Homo sapiens: one gene and its partner. The protein of the gene in region 1 purifies or fractionates together with the protein of each later gene. This does not show direct contact. Each region holds a gene or a part of one and is shown on either strand. Other genes may lie near its edges. The genes, in order: ZNF625 and GGPS1.

The links.
Region 2: the proteins of ZNF625 (region 1) and GGPS1 purify together in Homo sapiens (affinity purification with mass spectrometry; one large-scale study listed by BioGRID and IntAct). This does not show direct contact.

What each region holds. Positions count from the first base shown.
Region 1 is NC_000019.10:12,150,080-12,153,905, forward strand, and holds part of ZNF625 (zinc finger protein 625), read right to left. Parts: intron 1-3,826. UniProt on the Homo sapiens protein: May be involved in transcriptional regulation.
Region 2 is NC_000001.11:235,331,401-235,335,226, reverse strand, and holds part of GGPS1 (geranylgeranyl pyrophosphate synthase), read right to left. Parts: intron 1-3,826. UniProt on the Homo sapiens protein: Catalyzes the trans-addition of the three molecules of IPP onto DMAPP to form geranylgeranyl pyrophosphate, an important precursor of carotenoids and geranylated proteins.

The DNA of each region.
Region 1 (3,826 bases):
GAGTGCTTTCCTCTCATGAAAAGTATTCATAAACAAAATAGAAAAGTTTCCAATGCAGCCATTCATGGCTCTGTGGAAAAATGAAAAACAAAATACTACAGCTCTTTCAAATACATCATGGTGGACACACTGATGAAGATGTCGATTAGAGAGGGGAGATGGGTGCTTTGGAATGTGGGAAGGGAATCAGAAATGTAAGGATTTGTTGTTGTCCCCATGAAAAGGTAGCTGTGGGGGTCTCAAGGACTCCCTCTTTGACAAGGCTTTGACCTTGTCCTACAAAACCCAGTTATAGCAAAGATCCTTCTAAGGGAGTTCAGAGAAACCCCACCCTGGCCCCTCCAAACGTGATACCCAATGAAGTTCTGTTACCCCTATTCATAACTCATCAGCTTTCTCTTCTGTAACCCTTGATACCTCACCAAGTTCCATCCTCTCCCTCAATTTACCCTTGAACTATAGGTTCAATACTGTTGTTGCTGCATGCAAGGTTGAGGTCAATCTCTCTCCCATATTACAGTTCTCATGACCCACATCACAACTGTCCTGAATAAAGCCTTCTTTGACATTTTTAACACGATTTCAGTACAATCTTTTTTTACAAGGGACAGGGACTTAGACTTGAAACCCTGCTTCACAAGTCTGGAATGCATAGGGGATAATATGCTCTCTCCCTGTGGGAAGGAAGGAGGGTGTCCTGAGAGTATCTCCCACTCACATATCCAGAACTCTGGGTCAGACTTCTCTCCTCATGACCACTCCTTGTTGTCACTCCATAAACTGGGTGAGATGGGGGACTGTGGATACACCATTACCCAGACAGTGTTCTACGGTGGAGCTCGCCTCCTGCAGTGATGGGACACAATGCCTGGGAGTCCTGTTTGCCAATTCAGCCCTTACCTTGTGTCATAAAGGAGACTGAGGTTCCAACTGAGATGGATATATGTGAGGACCAGGTGTAGAATTTTCAAGTTTTTCTTCCATTTGGTGAATACTCTTTGCAATTTATTTCTTCTTTTTTTTTTTAAGCCTATAGCAAGCAGTATTCTCATGCATTCTATAAACCATGCAGTAACCAGGCTTGAATCTGCTCAGCTGCTAAGATCAGCTATACTCTTGTATTTCTTTTTTTTTTTTTTTTCTTTTGTCTGAGACAGAGTCTCACTCTGTCATCCAGGCTGGAGTGCAGTAGTGCAATCACAGCTCACTGCAGACTCAACCTCTGGGGTCAAGCAATCCTCCCACCACAGCCTTCTGAGTACCTGGGCTCACTGGAGCATGCCACCACACCTGGGTAATTTTTTTTTTTTTTTTTTTTTGAGACGGAGTCTCGCTCTGTCGCCCAGGCTGGAGTGCAGTGGCACGATCTCGGCTCACTGCAAGCTCTGCCTCCTGGGTTAACGCCTTTCTCCTGCCTCAGCCTCCCGAGTAGCTGGGACTACAGGCCCCGCCACCACGCCCGGCTAATTTTTTGTATTTTTAGTAGAGACGGGGTTTCACCGTGTTAGCCAAGATGGTCTCGGTCTCCTGACCTCGTGATCCGCCCGCCTCGGCCGCCCAAAGTGCTGGGATTATAGATGTGAGCCACCGCGCCTGGCCAGTTTTTTTTATTTTTTGTAGAGACATGGTCTCACTATGCTTCCCAGGTTGGTCTTAAACTCCTAGGCTCAAGAGATCCCCTTACCTCAGCCTTCCAAGTTCTGGGATTCCAGATGTGAACCACTAACCTTGACCATACTCCTGTATTTCTTCATTGTGTCTTTCAAAACAGAAAAGCTTAAATTTTAATGTAGTCAAAATTACATACTTTTTCTCTGTTCCTAGTGTTTCTCTTGTCATATTATAGCCTCTTCTTCCTAAACCTAAGATCATGAATATTTTTGGGTGGCACATTCTGTAGCAACAAGAGGGTGAGGTTCTCCTTTGTTCCCAGAGGAGAATGAGACTGGTGTATTCTGCAGGCTAATAAGGAAATGAAACTCACTATACTATGGAGGATAAAAGTATATAAATTTACACTATAACAGTATAATGCCATATAGGCTAATACCGTTTATATGTGGCACTTATATATCATATACACGTTACATGTAATATTTACCAATTACCTACCATAACTAAACCATATACTGTATATAAATGCAACATATGTACATGTATATGTGTATATATATACACACACACTATATCCTGTACTAGATAATGCTAGATTCTATTAAAATACTGTACATGAATATCTCCTTTAAATTTCAAAAGAAAACACCTCACCAATATATTGGAAAAGAGAATCCTATAACAATATCATACCCGTGATGAAGTGGCATTCAATTCAGGAAAGCAATGCTGCTCTCACCTCTGAAAATCCATTCATGCAATACACCATAATAGTATAGGATCAACAGCAAACAACACAAGAACATCATAATAGATGCAGAAAAAGCATATGACAAACCTCAACATTTCTTCATGATAAAAACACTCGGCCGGGTGCAGTGGCTCACACCTGTAATCCCACCACTTTGGGATGCCAAGGCGGGAGGATCACAAGGTCAAGAGCTCGAGACAAGCCTGGCCAGCACGGTAAAACCTCGTCTCTACTAAAAATACAAAAAATTAGCTGGGCGTGGTAGCATGCGCCTGTAATCCCAGCTACCCAGGAGGCTGAGGTAGGAGAATCGCTTGAACCCAGGAGGCAGAGGTTGCAGTGGGCCGAGATCATGCCATTGCACATCCCAGCCTGGATGACGGAGCGAGACTCCATCTTAAAAAAAAAAACAACAACAACTCAATAAACTAATAATACAAAGTAACTTCCTTAACTTACTATAAGGTATATATAAAAAATGCAAAACTACCCTCATTCGTGATGGTGAAGGACTAACTGCTTTCTCCCAAAGATGAGACACAGACAAGGATGTCTGCTCTCATGCCTTCTACTCAGCTTGAGAAAGGAGATGCTACTAGGCCAACCAGGTCAGAAAACAAAAGCCTAGGCGGGACGCGGTGGCTCACGCCTGTAATCCTAGCACTTTGGGAGGCCGAGGTGGGTGGATCACGAGGTCAGGAGTTCAAGACCAACCTGGCCAAGATGATGAAACCCGTCTCTACTAAAAATACAAAAATTAGCCAGGTGCGGTGGCAGGAGCCTGTAATCCCAGCTACTTGGAAGGCTGAGGCAGAAAAATCACTTGAACTTCGGGGGAGAAGTTGCAGTGAGCCTAGAATGCGCCACTGCACTCTAGCCTGGGCGACAGAGTGAGACTCCATCTCAAAAAAAAAAAAAAAAAGAAAAGCCCTCCAGATTTATAGTAAAGACACATGCACGGCTGGGTGCAGTAGTTCATGCCTGTAATCCGGCATTTTGGGAAGCCAAGGCGGGTGGATCACCTGAGGTCAGGAGTTCAAGACTAGCCTGGCCAACATAACAAAACCCTGTCTCTACTAAAAATACAAAAATTGCCGGGTATGGTGGCGCAGGTCTGTAATTCCAGCTACTTGGGAGGCTGAGGCAGGAGAATCGCTTGAACCTGGGAGGGGGAGGTCGCAGTGAGCTGAGATTGTGCCAGTGCACTCCAGCCTGGGTGACAGAGGGAGTCTCTGTGTCAAAAAAAAAAAAAAATACATGCAGTGATTCTGGCAGGCATATAGACTGTCACTGCCCATACCGGTGTACAAACTGAGGCAGAAATACAAAAAGGCAAAAGACTTATGTTAGTTTTATATTTCTTTTTTTTTTTTTTTTTTTTGAGACGGAGTCTTGCTCTGTCCCCCAGGCTGGAGTGCAGTGGGGTGATCTCAGCTCACTGCAAGCTCTCCCTCCCGGGTT
Region 2 (3,826 bases), on another chromosome or scaffold:
AACATAAAGATCACATGAAACTAATCATCTTTCAGTGTCAAACTGCAAAGGAATTTGTATTGCAGGGTGTTTGTGAAAAGACACCTAGTCTGGTTTAAAAAGAAGATTCTGTTGCTGGGCACGGTAGTTCACGCCTGTAATCCCAGCACTTTGGGAGGCTGAGGCGGGCGGATAGCTTAAGCCCAGGAGTTCGAGACCAGCCTGGGCAACATGGCAAAACCTTGTCTCTACTAAAAATATGAAAAATTAGCTGAGGTGGGTAGATCATGAGGTCAGGAGTTCGAGACCAGCCTTCACACCATCTCTACTAAAACTACAAAGATTAGCCGAGCATGGTGGTGTGTGCCTGTAGTTCTGGCTACTTGGGAGGCTGAGGCAGGAGAACTGCTTGAACCCGGGAGGCAGAGGTTGCAGTGAGCTGAGATCACACCACTGCACTCCAGCCTGGGCGAAAGAGTGACTCCAGTCTCAAAAAAACAAAGCAAGATTCTACAGCTATGAAGCCTTGAAAACATGTTAAGTGAAAGAAGCCAATCTCAAGAGACTACATATTGTATGATTCCATTTATACGAAATGTTCAGAATAAGCCAATCTACAGAGAAAGAAAGTAGATTAGTGGTTAGGAACAGGGACTAATTGCTAATGAGTACAGGGTTTCTTTTCGCAGGGATCAAAATGTTATAAAATTAAATTGTGATGGTTGCACAGCCCTGTGAATACACTAAAAACTGCTGAAATGTACACTTTAAATGGGTGGTATGTAAATTATATCTCAATTAGAAAATTCTTCATTCAAGTGATTATATTGGTCAAAGTGTTGTCTTGGTTTTTAAGTTGTTTTCTTAGTCACATAACTTATATTAAGCTTTTCCTATTTTAATCAACCACAAAAGGCTTAATTTGTTGACGGCAAATGTCAAAACACATCCAAAGAATTGGAAAGATACCTCTGTATTTAACTGATTACACTAATTAGTAAACATATCCTTTTTTAAATGAGCACTAAGATGAGTATGTTTTATGTATTTAAAATTTAAAGGGATTCTCCTCGTCCCCCTAGTAGTTTCTCTACAATCAATCCATTTCAGAGATTTCTGATTTAAAATACGCATTAACTCAAATGCATATATTTATTAAACATATTCCCCTTTATACTGAAATCTGTCTTATTTCAGTATTTCCTAGAATAACACTCATGGTCTTCCTAGGGTCTCCCTGTACTGTTGAATCTCTACTTTATTTCTTTGTATCTGTTTCTATTATTACTTGTCCTCATATTAGGAATCTAACTGCTCTAGCATCTTTGGCACATTTTGGGAAGTTTATTACTTTTATCCTCTTTCTTTTGCTTCTTGGGACTATGATTTAGTCTTTAGAATCCTGAGCCCACTTCTAACCAACTTTTCTACAACAAAAAGGCTAAATGTAATATGGCATCTAATGGCAGTTTGTGGTTAGGGCTGTTCAATGAGTTGCACATCATTGGATTTTGGAATTGGAAACCACTTTAGAAAGTTATCTCAGTATGCCAGAAGATAAAGCACAAGAATATATTTGCTTGAGTGAGGGCCACTTTCTTTTGAATGAAGAAAATGAAGTTCAGTTCATGTACTTTGTGTTATTCTGATTGCTCAAAGGTCCTTTTGTTTTTTTTTTTTGAGACGGAGTTTTGCTCGTTGCCCAGGCTGGAGTGCAGTGGCGCAATCTTGGCTCACTGCAACCTCCACCTCCCGGGTTCAAGTGATTCCCCTGCCTCAGCCTCCCGAATAGCAGGGATTACAGGTTCTTGCCACCACGCCCAGCTAATTTTTTGAATTTTTAGTAGAGATGGGGTTTCACTATGTTGGCCAGGCTGGTCTCAAAACTCCTGACCTCAGGCGATCCACCCGCCTCAGCCTCCCAAAGTGTTGGAATTGCAGGTGTTAGCTACTGTGCCCGGCCTGATCCTTTTTTTCTAAGTCTGGGCCAGAGACTTAGAAATCTTCAATTTAAATATGCATCTTGTATGATTCTGATACAGCTGCTTGAGAATGTTAGGGGAACTGGAAATAGGTTGCTTACATGGTATCACACCACATCACAACTAAGGGGGTGTGGGCTACTGTTATTTATTGTAACAGTGAGGATGTGTTCCTTTTTTTTTTTTTTTTTTTTTTTTGAGACGGAGTCTCACTCTGTCGCCCAGGCTGGAGTGCAGTGGCACGATCTCGGCTCACTGCAACCTCTGCCTCCTGGGCTCAAGCAATTCTCCTGACTCAGCCTTCTGAGTAGCTGGGACTACAGGTGCCCACCACCACGCCCAGCTAATTTTTGTATTTTAGTAGAGACGGGGTTTCACCAGTGTTCCTCGATTTCTAAATCAGCCCTAGTAACTTCATAATGTTAAGTAATAAAAGTCATCTTCTATAGCCCAGTCACCTGATACTATGATCTGATCATTGATACTCTCAGGGGTAAGGCAATTCTAGTACTGTAACTTCTTGCTGGCATTAAATTTAAAAATGTAAAATATACTTAGGAGCAGAATCTGACTTTTGTGGATTTATATTATAAATTAATCCACCAAAGACAAGACTTTTGCACATATTTCAGTAAATAAACACACTGATTCATATACATGCAGCCAAGCAAATCCAAAGATCCTGAGTAAATACCAACAACGTGCCACAAAAGTAAAATTTCCAAAATCTTGCACTATGTGTTTATTACAGCACTATTCACAATAGTAAAGATATGGAATCAACCTAAGTGTCCATCAGCAGATGACTGAATAAAGAAAATGTGGTATATATACAACGAATGATTACTCAGCCATTAAAACAAAATGAAATCATGTCATTTGCAGCAAAATGGATGGATAGCCCTTACCTTAAGTGTAACAAGTCAGACATAAAAGACAAATAGTACATCTTCTCAATTATAAATGGGAGCTAGATAATGTGTATACATGGACATGGAGTGTGGAATGATAGACAATGGAGATTCCAAAGGGTGAGAAGGTGGGAAGGAGGTGGATGATGAAAGATTACTTAATGGGTACAACGTGATTACATGGGTGATGGACCCCCTAAAAGTCCTGACTTCACTACAATGCAATCTATGCATGTGATAAAACTACACTTGCACCCCATAAATTTATACAAGTAAGAATAAACAAATAAAAAACCCTCCAAACCAAAATCTAATTATTAGTGCTAGCATTCCACTTTTCCAGCACAATTACGAGTGTAGAAGTGCTGAGACTACCCAATTTGGTGACAATCAGGTATTTAATGTTCCTGTTTTGTAGCAGTCAATGAATACAAGGGTAAAATGGTTTGAACCACATTGTCTCTGTCATGCAGTTGTTTTTCTGCTGTGAAATGAGACGTATAATATGGCAACAGGAGAAAAGAATAAAACTTCTACATATGTATGCACTGTTAGGCAGTTGGTAAGCACATGATAATGGGTGGCTGAAATAATAACACACACATATAACCATCAACTGTGCAAGTGCTTTGATGCTTCCCCATACTGTAAACCATCTCATGGGTCACAGAAACCTTTTGAGAATATGATGAAAGCTATGAATCTTCTAAAAAAAAAAAAAAAAGCCCGGTGTATGTGTTAATAAGTTGCAACACAAATGTATACACTGCCACAAAGACTTACAACATACAAATTCTCAGAGATCATATAGTCCCTGAATGTTTACACGTACCTCAGATTAAGATTCCCAGCTATGGAATATCTTTACCCTTTAATGCCAAGCAGACAAATATTCGTGTTTGTGTTATAACAAGCTAAGACATAAATTCCACTAGCTTAACTCTTTATTGAAGG